Homo sapiens: one gene and its partner. The protein of the gene in region 1 purifies or fractionates together with the protein of each later gene. This does not show direct contact. Each region holds a gene or a part of one and is shown on either strand. Other genes may lie near its edges.

Region 1 (4,628 bases):
GGAAAATATAAAATATAATAATATACCTTCTTCATTGGGTTTTTGTGAGGATTAAATGGGAAAGGCCTGGCACACAGTAAGCACTCTAACTTTATGTGGCCTAACCAAATAAAATAGGCCCCGCAGTGAACTAGGGTGAGACACGGAATCTAATGTTTGTCTCTCACGGTTTGCATGTTTTTTTGCAAAGCGTCTTGGAAGTGCTAAATCCTGTTCCAGCCTTTAGTTCCTGGGTTCCTGGGGGAGTTCTGTTCTCAATACTCTTCATGCACAGTAGGACCCAGACATCCTTTGTGGGTTTTGCTGAGCTGTTCCCTTTCCCAGGGGAACATATTTCCCTCTGTCTCACAATTTTCAGCTGAAGTTGTCTCATCTTTGCAGTGGGACTTTTCATACTGTTTGGACATCTGAATAAATGGTGTCACTGGTCACAGGGCCTGTGTGTAGAACTCATGCCCATGACAGATTGTGTCCCGTTACCTCCTACTACAGGATGAGAGTGAGCTTGTTTTTGTCTTGGGTTGCCTTCTTCTGCTTAAAGATAAGGCTTTTTCCAATGTTAAAAGTTAATTTATTATCATACCATGATAGTTCAAAACTAAAACAGTACTAAGAAGTAAACTTTAAATTCTTGCTTCTACCCATGTTCCATCCACCTCATTTTTGTACCTCCGTCACCCCCAGGGAACCATTGAGATTAGTTTCTTATACAACTTTCCAAAGTTTCTTTATGCAAAACTCAGGCAGCTGCAAATACATATTCTTATTTTTCCCTCTCTTTCTTTTTAAAGGAGCATAATCAACATACTGTTCTACACTTGGCTTTTTTCCAGTATTCTATCTGGGTATCAGGAGATTGTTCCATATCATACAGAGAATGCATGTGTGTTGACGAGTCTGTAAAGCCCCCAGGATCAGGCAGAACGTACCCAGCAGGTTATCAGAGAACATTCGGTTGGCAGGCTGGGGAGGATGGGGTCAAGGAGGGGACTCTCCAGCAGTGAGGAGACAGCAGCAAGCAGGGAATCTGCAGTCAGCCTTCGCCTGAGCGGTTTCACTGAGCACTCGCTGCACACTGAGGAATGCTGGACAGGAGGGAAAAACCTCTCCTTAGGCCCATGCAATTACAGATATCCCCTGGCTGGGTGACTTCGAACCCTGAGACCAACCAGTCACAACACTTTCCCCAGGGAAGAGGCCAGTCTGGAGGCCAAGTGCAAGGCAGATGGTCCAAAGGCCGTGGTTCTCAAGGCCAGGGCCCCGCTCTGCTCATCCTTCATGAATAACCCCAAGAGGCTCCCTTCACAAGCTGTTGTGAACTCGAGCTTGTAACTTCCACACCATGGGGAAACAGGCTGGATGCCATTCTCTTGCCCTAAAACACTCCAGAGCCACACGCTGACTCCACCTCCCCTTGCTGTTTCTTTTGCTCAGCTGGAAGTAAGGTAAGCTTTGTGTGCTTGTGTTTCAGGAGTTGTGCAGCATTTGCAGAACGGTCAGCTGCTGAGGGATATCTATCTAAAGAAACACAAACTCCTGCCCAATGATTGGTCTGCAGACCAGCTCTATTTAGAGACCACTGGGAAAAGCCGGACCCTACAAAGTGGGCTGGCCTTGCTTTATGGCTTTCTCCCAGATTTTGACTGGAAGAAGATTTATTTCAGGCACCAGCCAAGTGCGCTGTTCTGCTCTGGAAGCTGCTATTGCCCGGTAAGAAACCAGTATCTGGAAAAGGAGCAGCGTCGTCAGTACCTCCTACGTTTGAAAAACAGCCAGCTGGAGAAGACCTACGGGGAGATGGCCAAGATCGTGGATGTCCCCACCAAGCAGCTTAGAGCTGCCAACCCCATAGACTCCATGCTCTGCCACTTCTGCCACAATGTCAGCTTTCCCTGTACCAGAAATGGCTGTGTTGACATGGAGCACTTCAAGGTAATTAAGACCCATCAGATCGAGGATGAAAGGGAAAGACGGGAGAAGAAATTGTACTTCGGGTATTCTCTCCTGGGTGCCCACCCCATCCTGAACCAAACCATCGGCCGGATGCAGCGTGCCACCGAGGGCAGGAAAGAAGAGCTCTTTGCCCTCTACTCTGCTCATGATGTCACTCTGTCACCAGTTCTCAGTGCCTTGGGCCTTTCAGAAGCCAGGTTCCCAAGGTTTGCAGCCAGGTTGATCTTTGAGCTTTGGCAAGACAGAGAAAAGCCCAGTGAACATTCCGTCCGGATTCTTTACAATGGCGTCGATGTCACATTCCACACCTCTTTCTGCCAAGACCACCACAAGCGTTCTCCCAAGCCCATGTGCCCGCTTGAAAACTTGGTCCGCTTTGTGAAAAGGGACATGTTTGTAGCCCTGGGTGGCAGTGGTACAAATTATTATGATGCATGTCACAGGGAAGGATTCTAAAAGGTATGCAGTACAGCAGTATAGAATCCATGCCAATACAGAGCATAGGGAAAGGTCCACTTCTAGTTTTGTCTGTTACTAAGGGTAGAAGATTATTGCTTTTTAAAGGCTAAATATTGTTTGTGGGAACCACAGATGGTTGGGGTTGAACAGTAAGCACATTGCTGCAATGTGGTACGTGAATTGCTTGGTACAAAATGGCCAGTTCACAGAGGAATAGAAGGTACTTTATCATAGCCAGACTTCGCTTAGAATGCCAGAATAATATAGTTCAAGACCTGAAGTTGCCAATCCAAGTTTGCACTCTTCTGGCCTGCCCCATGTTACTATGTGATGGAACCAGCACACCTCAACCAAAATTTTTTTAATCTTAGACATTTTTACCTTGTCCTTGTTAAGAATTTCTTGAAGTGATTTATCTAAAATAAAGGTTGGCAAACTTTTTCTGTAAAGGGCCAGATTGTAAATATTTCAGACTGTGTGGACCAAAAGGCCACATACAGTCTCTGTCATAACTACTCAACTCTGTTTCTGAAGCAGGAAAGCCACCACAGACAGTACATAAAGGAATATGTGTAGCTGGGTTCCCAGGCCGGACAAAACAGATGGTGACCAGATTTGGCCCCTGGGCTGTAGTTTGCTGACCCCTCATCTAAAAAATAGGCTATACTACAATTGCACTTCCAGCACTTTGAGAACGAGTTGAATACCAAGAATTATTCAATGGTTCCTCCAGTAACTTCTGCTAGAAACACAGAATTTGGTCTGTATCTGACACTAGAACAAAACTTGAGGGTAAATAAACATTGAATTAGAATGAATCATAGAAAACTGATTAGAAGAATACTTGATGTTTATGATGATTGTGGTACAAGATAGTTTTAAGTATGTTCTAAATATTTGTCTGCTGTAGTCTATTTGCTGTATATGCTGAAATTTTTGTATGCCATTTAGTATTTTTATAGTTTAGGAAAATATTTTCTAAGACCAGTTTTAGATGACTCTTATTCCTGTAGTAATATTCAATTTGCTGTACCTGCTTGGTGGTTAGAAGGAGGCTAGAAGATGAATTCAGGCACTTTCTTCCAATAAAACTAATTATGGCTCATTCCCTTTGACAAGCTGTAGAACTGGATTCATTTTTAAACCATTTTCATCAGTTTCAAATGGTAAATTCTGATTGATTTTTAAATGCGTTTTTGGAAGAACTTTGCTATTAGATAGTTTACAGATCTTTATAAGGTGTTTTATATATTAGAAGCAATTATAATTACATCTGTGATTTCTGAACTAATGGTGCTAATTCAGAGAAATGGAAAGTGAAAGTGAGATTCTCTGTTGTCATCGGCATTCCAACTTTTTCTCTTTGTTTTTGTCCAGTGTTGCATTTGAATATGTCTGTTTCTATAAATAAATTTTTTAAGAATACCTATACTATACAACTAATGGTTTGTACCTATAAGTCACTCGAGTTATTTTCAAGTGAGAGCCAGTATTTTATTTTTCCCCCTTCATTCAAATGTCATGCAGAGAACCAGTATTTTAAAATTTTATTTTAACTGCTTTACTAACTGCTGAAAGTTGTGTTATCTCTCAAGTATTCAAAGACTAAATGTGTTTTCTTTCCTTCCCACTCACAATATATCTGAATTAGAACTGCTAAACACAGCTTGAAGACTTAAAAATAAAAGTGACTCGGAAGATTTTTTAAAAAATCAATTGATAGTATCTGTTGGTAAAAGTAAATATTGTGGCTAAGAGTCAACACCAAAAGTGTAGATAACAGTTTTGTCTTCTAAGACACTGGTATGCACAGCATCAAAATATCTTCCTCACTATCAAGTTCCGAGACACTTCATTCCATAACAAACACTAAGCACAGAGATGAGATCAGTGGACACAGTCATAGTCCTTGGTTTCTGGGCAGTGGTCTAATGACTTAACTCATGACAGGCCTGGGTGTATACATGCATAATTTAGCTTCCTTGTTTTTATGATTAATACATGCCCACTAGAAAATAACCAATACTGAAAAACAGCTTCAGAAGTGATGTTCTCATCTAATCCCACCTCCAGAGGTAATGTTGTGAGCTGTCTGACATTCTTCTGGAAAAGTTCCATGTAGATTCAGAAATATATGTAGTTTTTAATAGGAACTAGATCATTTTATATATATGTAAATATATATAATATGTGTGTGTATATATATATAGTTCTGT
Region 2 (7,526 bases), on another chromosome or scaffold:
TACTTACCCTGGGGAGCCCTGGCGGGGAAACTTTTCCAGGCGACCGCCGCGGCGGCTCGGGCGCCCCTCGGCCGCCCATGCCGCCCGGGCCCGACTGCGGGCCCGCGTTCCCAGCGCCGTGGGCCCCAGCGCGTCCGGCCCCGCGCGGCGGCCCTGCGGGGCCTTCTGGGGCGCCCGCTGCCTCCGGCTCCTGGTAGGGGCAGGTAGGAAGTGGGGCAGGCGATCCCAAAGTCCTCGCGGCCGCCCGGCGCGTCCCTCAGGCCCCGCTGCCGTGCCCCCGCCCCCGGGCTCGGCTCTTCGCCCCGCGAGCTCCCCGGGAAGACGGCCGCGGAGACCCGAACTCGGAACCAAAGGGAAAGGCTTGGGGGAGGCACTCCGAGCCCTGCCTCAGCCGGACTCTTGGGGGACTGGCCCTCTCCGTCCCCCGCTTCCCCACTCCTGGGCGACGAATTTGAGCCTGACCGGGTTAAGTGCCCAGGGACGGCGGACCTGGGGTCCTCCACTCCCAGGTCGAGGGAGGACTGCACGGCGGCAGGACCAGCCTCCTCTTGGCCTACTGTTAGAGGAGTCACGACTTCGTCTGCATTTGTATAGACAGGTGGATATATGAGCAGAAGTAGCCCACCTCCTTTTAATATTTTTAGCTTTTTTTTCTTTTTAGACACCAACCGCTTGCCAGGCACCAGGCCAGTCACTTTACATTATCTCCTTCTTATGTACATGATTTAATCCACATAATCCTTTCAGGCTGAGATTATTAATCCCATTTTACAGATAAGGAAACTGAGGCGCACAACGTTTAAATAATTTGCGCAAAGTCCCACAACCAGCAGACCTCAGATCCTGCAAGAGACTGGGGTGTTTGGCAGAGCCTGAATCCAAGCTACTTGCAATATACCAGCCGGAGCCTCTCCCTCCCTGGGCCCTAGAAAACGTTTGTGCTACTTGGCTGAGGCCGACGCTGCTTGAGCTGAGAAAGAAAAGAAGGAAAATGTGGCCAGGAGCTTCCCAGGCTGGGTTATTCCAAGGTCGCAGAGTAGCCTGTGCCCATCTCTTCTCGCTCCCTGTGAGATAACCTGGCTGCACAGGATCAGCCTGTGGCCTCCTTAACACAGGTTCCCGGGTAATGGGAAAAAAAAAATCCACTGAGTGTTTTCTATGAGCCAGGCACCATTGAGAGCTCTTTTCCTGTGTCAACCCGTTTTATCCTCACCACATGCCCCATGAGGTGGGTACAGTACATTTTCCTTTAAGTACCTTTGATGTATCACTGTCTGCATTTTATAGAGGAGGAAACTGAGGCCCAGAGAGGTTAAATCATGATAATTCTTAAGGCAACTGGTGAAAAATCAATCAGCAAACCGGTTCAAATCCCTGGGGCACTATTTTTTGCTGGGACACCTTAGACAAGTTAATTTCTCAGGGACTTCCTCAATTTACCCCTCTATAAAATGGAGATAATATTTAGTGAATGGGATCAGGTACGATTCGGGCACCTTTACAAACACTGCAAGAACTGGAAACTGGAGGAACAATGCTGGGTCCTCAAAGTTGAGCGGGAAGATAAGTCCAGTTGGCCTTGTCCCAAAGTGGGGACTTCCCCTCCGCCAAGGAACTAAGACTTGTAGGGGCCACACTGGGTAGCGCCAGCCACAGTTGGGAGAACAATACTCCAGCAGTCAGACTGAGGCAGGAAGTGACTCACGCTTCTTCCTTAGGCTGTGAGCAAGAGAACTCCATTGAGGGGAAACAGGGACAGGGCTGGCCCCACCTACCCACTTGTCCTCAGGCCTAGAAGAAAGGTCAGCCCAGAAAAATAGCAATACTTGCTGCTTCAGGTGCCCCACCCATCCTGGAGACTGGCCCCAGGGGAGCCCGCAGTGGGTCTTTGGAGGGGGAGGGGCTAGCCTAGGCTCAGATGACTGCCACCCAGGCAGAGGCGGTGGGAAGTGGAGCTTCCCAGTTTCTTCCAGCCAGCTTGCCTCTTCAATCTGCATAAGGCAAAATTCTTTAAAGTGGGTTCTCAGAGGTGCCTCCCTGAGAGGGAGGAATGAGGACAGGATTGGGCAGTTGAGCACCTCTCTCTGCTTCACCCAGAGTGTCTCACATTTTAGGGTTTCACATGAGATTGTATTTTACAACAATTCTGCTGCTAAAAAGAATTTGAAAGCCACTCTCTGTGAGACTTCTCTGGAAAAAAATCCCATTTGACCACAACTGGTGACTTCTGCCTTTATCTCATTGCAACAAGTCCTGTGGGCAGGTATTGTTCTCTTTATCACTCTCAACTGGCCCTGGAGCCCAGGTCTCCTGACCTGGGGCCCTAGGGGCCCAAGGTCCTCTGGATCCCACCTTACCAGTTTTACACAGCAGTTAGCAGGACTTGGGCATGTGACAGAAGTCTGGAGATGAGTGAGAGGAGCAGGGCCTGATGGGTAAGTGGGGGCTGTAAAGGGGCTCCATTTTCCCAGCAGGGCTCTGGGAGGAAGAGTCCAGCTAGGCCTCTCTTTATCCTTGATTTGGGGCTAATCCAGAGAGGCTCCTGAGAATCACATAGTCCTAAATCCACCCAGTCATCCTGACTCCAAGCACTCCTGTTGTCTCCTTGGGGTGCTCTGGGAGTCTTCTCTGAAATCTCTGGTCCACCTCAGGCACAGCAAATAAAGCCTTCGGCAGCAGCACCCACACCTAGTTGTAAGCAGAATGTCTACACAACATTCAGACGTGCATAGAAGGGTGCACAACAAAATTCCATTGGTGTTCTCTCCGAATGAAAGGGTCACATTTGCGATCTTTGTTTTCTTCTTTTTGCCTACCTGCATTTTTCAGGAATGTCTACAAGAACTCCTAAAATAATTAAACCTTTAAGTCAATGCAAAATCGAATAAAGCATGTCCATACTTCACCATCCAGCTCCAGAGCACCTGGGATTCATCCTGGCCGCTGCTGCTTCCCCGCCACTCACTGCAGCTGCAACAGTCAGGCTCCTATCCCTTCACAGGGCGGGGCCCTTCCAGTTCTGGCTAAACCACTTTGGGAAAACCTTCTTTATATGACAGGCAAACAGGGTGTCTGTGGGTGGGGGGAGGAGCTAAAAGTGATGTGGTGGTGACATATCTGGTCGCACTGGAACTGGATCCTAACATGGCCAGCCAGCCCTTCTCATTTTCCTCATTTATTGGGGTGGGTCTGCACTTACCTTCTGCCTGGCTTTGCTGCATCCCAGCCACTGGCTGACTTAATGACTTCCTTCCGCCAGCTCCAGCTCCTTGTGTTCTGCCTTGCCTTCCATGGCCAGCCAGTGCTGCCACAATTATGTACCTAATAAATGCTTTGGGTGCAGTCTCGCCTGGCAGACATTCATTGAGCAGCTGCTGAACGCTGGGCTCTGGTGCCCCATAGCTGGGTCCCTTAGAGCTTGTCCATAGGAAGCCAGAGACCACCTCTCTAGTAGGGTTGCATGGAGGTACCTGGGACACACCAGGGTCTTCCTCAGTCTGCGACCTCCCTGGCCTTCCAGCTTCAACAAGCCTGCTGCCCATCCTTCTCTCTCTCGATTCAGAAATGTGAATCACTCAATCCTCATAGTTTTTTTTGTTTGTTTGTTTTATGGGTTTGTTTTTTTTTTTTCTAGACAAGAGTCTCGCTCTGTTGCCCAGGCTGGAATGCAATGGCCTGATCACAGCTCACTGCAACCTCTGCCTTCTGGGTTCAGGCGATTCTCATGCTTCAGCCTCCCAAGTAGCTGGGATTACAGGCTTACGCCACTCGTATTTTTTTTTTTTTTTTTTGTATTTTTAGTAGAGATGGGGTTTTGCCATGTTGGCCAGGCTGGTCTCGCACTCCTGACCTTAAGTGATACACCCACCTCGGCCTCCCTAAGTGCTGGGATTATTAGGCGTGAGCCACCACGCCCGGTCCCCTTGTTGAGTTTTCAATCAGTTTGTCATCCTGAACAGGGTTTCTCAACCTTGGCATTATCAACATCTTGGGTCGGATAATTCTCTGTAGGGGACACTGCACTCTACATTGCAGGATGTTCAGTCGCATCCCTAGTCACTAAACATTAGCTGCTAGTAGCATTCCCGCTCCCATGATGACAACCAAAAAGATCTCCAGGTATTGCCAAATGTCCCTTGGGAGACAAAAATCTCTCCCAGCAAAGAACCACTGTCGCAGAATGAGGAGTGGGAACGTCACAGGATGGTGGTTAGTGTGCCAGGGTTCGAGGCAGCAAGAGTTGTCTGCTGGGAACTAAGCTCTGAGACAGCTAGCAGTGAGGGAGAAAACTCCCAAACTTGAAACTGCCCAGTATGCCAGCACAACAATGGGCCGTTTAGTGATCAGGGCAAACAATCATGCATCCTCATGACATCTGAGATCACTTTCCATCGTGTTGGTGATAATGCTGAATCAAGGAAAGGATCAATCATGTTGATCATACTCCATTTTCTAAGGTGGGGAGGTGTGTGAGCCCTTGTAGCATTAAAGACGTATTTGGAAAACAGATCAGTGCTTGCTTGGGGAAGGGGGCAGGGAGGGGCGGGAGGAAACTTTTGGGAATGATGGACATGTTCATTATCTTGATTGTGGTGATGGTTTCATGGGTGTGTCCATATATCAAAACATATCAAGTTGTACACTTTAAATCCATGCCGTTTATAGTGTGTCAGTTATACCTCAGCAAAGCTGTTTTGAAGATGTGTTGTTTAAAGTTTTAGTGCTTGAAGGGCATTATTTTGAAAATTCACTACTGTGGAGTAGTCCATTTCTTTGCTGAATAAATAAGGGGTCACTGTAGTACTTAAAAAGAAAACAGGAAGAAAAAACAAACAGAAGAAGAAGAAGAAAAGCGATCATGGGCTGTAAGGTCGTCCTAGGCAGGGAAGGAAAGGAATGGCGTGAAGAGTTGGCTCAGTCGCCCCTGAGTGTGGCCCGGAGAGCCTGTCCTCTGGCCTACGGCAGGCCCCAGAGAGTCTTTCCGTTGACTGATGCCATCAAATCAACATGTCTGGAACGGTATTATCAGGGACTTGGGAAAAATAGAATGACAAATGTGCTGGCTGCCAGGAAAGGAACAGATGAGTCTGGAAATTATAGGCTCCTCCACAAACTTTAATCCCTAAAACAAACATTGCTGGGGAAAAAGTCAGTTAATACCTGGAGGAGTGTGAGTGCTGTCCTTCAATGGGGCACGGCACACCTGGGAGCAGAGAGCATTTACAGAAGCCAGACACCGTGTGCCAACCTGTGTCAACAGGCTCATGCTCAAGGGGCTGCACGTGGCAGCAGGGAGCACTGCGAGCGGCAGTGAGGGGCCCTCTCTGACGGTGCAGATGCTTTTTGGCTGATGGAGACCTCTACGGAGGTTCTCAGGAGCCCCTCAGCGAGGCGGGTGAGCAAGGAGAGGGGCTGTGATAGCGATGAGTTATATGTGAAAAGAAAAACTGCTTTTGTGGAGGTTGATTGTGCACTGGGCATTTCATTCACTCATTCCTCAGATACTCATTGAGTGCCTGCTGGGTGCAGGACCTCTTCCAGTGCTTCAGTTATAGCGAGGGAAGCAGGCAGTTCACAGGTGAATAAGCCAGTTTATGAGAGAAGTTCAGATCATCCTAAGAGCTCTGGAAGAAAATGATAAAGAAGGTAATGTGGGAGTGCCTGGGGAAGCGGGAGGGCTGCTATCCCTGGGGTGGTCAGGGAAGACCTCTGGGAGGAGGTGATGTTTGAGCTGAGGCTGAAAAAAGAGGCAAAAGTGTAAAGATCTGGAGGAAGAGTGTCCCAGGCAGAGGGAGAGGCAAGGACATGGGCCTGGGGGCATGAGCTTATGCACTTGGGGAGCAGACACTTCTTGGAGCATGGCCGAGAGATGAGATGAGAGGTAGGTAACGGGCTGGATCACAGAGCACTTGCCAAGCTGGGTCCAGATGTTGAATTTAATTATCAGAGCAATGGGCTCTGGATTCTCAAAATTCTTTTGGAAATTTGACTGATTTACCCTTTAATAAAAATTATTTATTTATTTATTTAGAGATGGAGTCTTGCTCTGTCGTCCAGGCTGGAGTGCAGTGGCGCAATCTCGGCTCACTGCAACCTCCACCTCCCTGGCTCAAGCAATTCCCCTGCCTCAGCCTCCCGAGTAGCTGGGATTACAGGCACACACCACCACACCCGGCTAATTTTTTTGTATTTTTAGTAGAGACAGGGTTTCACCATGTTGGCCAGACTGGTCTCGAACTCCTGACCTCAGTCAGTCCACCTGCCTCAGCCTCCCAAAGTGCTGGGATTACAGGCGTGAGCCACCGCGCCCAGCCATTTTATTTTTATATTTTTAAATTTAATTTAAAAGATGGGCTCTCACTCTGTTGCCCAGACTGGCCTCAAGCAATCCTCCTGCCTCCCCCTCCAGAGGTGCTGGGATTACAGGCGTGAGCCACCGTGCCCGGCAAATTTACCCTTTTTAAAGGCTCCTCTGACTACCATGGGGAGTAGAGATATGGGGGTTCGTGTGGGAACCCACCACAGCCCGACGCAGGAGGCACCATAGGTGACCCTCCTGATGTGAAATGTAGGGGACTGGCTTGGGGGAGTCCAGTGACTTTTTTTTTTTTTGAGACAGTGTCACTCTTGTCACCCAGGCTGGAGTGCAGTGGTGCGGTCTCAGCTCACTGCAGCCTCTGCCTCAGCCTCCCCGAGTAGCTGGGATTAGAGGCATGTGCTACCACGCCCAGCTAATTTTTTGTATTTTTAGTAGAGACGGGTTTTCATTTGCTACGTTGGCCAGGCTGGTCTCAAACTCCTGACTTCAAGTGAACCACCTGCCTCGGCCTCCCAGAGTGCTGGGATTACAGGTGTGAGTCACCGCCTTGAGTGACTCTATAAGCGCCCAGCCCCTGAATGACTTACAAACCAGTGAGCAGGTGGTAGGCTCCTGCGCAGGCCTGGGAAGGCTGGACAGGAGGTGAACCACACATCTGACCTGCGAAGTGGGGGCCTCTGCAGGACAAGAGCTGGCGGAGCAGCCAGGCGGGATCCCCCAACCCAACTGCTTAGGTGGGTTCAGGTGCTTCTCTCTAGACCATAGCCCTTGGGCATCTTTAGCCAGCGACTTGGCAACAAAAAGCTGCTTTGAGTTAACAGCTGAAACTCACAGTGAGTTTACGGGCTCATACTCTCAGGCTCTGTGCTCAATGCCTTATAATGATTGCTTCATATATTGCTCACAACAACCCTTGAGGCAGGTGCTGTTATGATCCCTGTTTCACAGATTAGGAAACTGAGGCCTGGACTCGCAGTCACTAAGGAAAATAAAGACCCAGGATTTGAACCTGGGACATAAGAATAGAAAGCCTACACACACTTCAACCGCTCTGCTTTCTGCCTCTACAAGAGAGCTGAACTGTGGCTAAATCAGACACAGATTCACTCAGCCATCGTGATGTGGGTGGCTCAGCTGTGATTCACATTTGACTTTTTCTTGGACAAGAATTGTTCACCTATGTTCTCACAGTAGTACATGCTGATTT

The links.
Region 2: the proteins of PXYLP1 (region 1) and FURIN purify together in Homo sapiens (affinity purification with mass spectrometry; 3 studies listed by BioGRID and IntAct, with this or other methods). This does not show direct contact.

What each region holds. Positions count from the first base shown.
Region 1 is NC_000003.12:141,290,797-141,295,424, forward strand, and holds the end of PXYLP1 (2-phosphoxylose phosphatase 1), read left to right. Parts: intron 1-1,471; coding exon 1,472-2,409; 3' UTR 2,410-4,128; downstream 4,129-4,628. UniProt on the Homo sapiens protein: Responsible for the 2-O-dephosphorylation of xylose in the glycosaminoglycan-protein linkage region of proteoglycans thereby regulating the amount of mature glycosaminoglycan (GAG) chains.
Region 2 is NC_000015.10:90,864,087-90,871,612, reverse strand, and holds the start of FURIN (furin isoform 1 preproprotein), read right to left. Parts: upstream 3,026-7,526; 5' UTR 2,902-3,025; intron 562-2,901; exon of another isoform or gene 463-561; intron 74-462; exon of another isoform or gene 8-73; intron 1-7. UniProt on the Homo sapiens protein: Ubiquitous endoprotease within constitutive secretory pathways capable of cleavage at the RX(K/R)R consensus motif. Mediates processing of TGFB1, an essential step in TGF-beta-1 activation.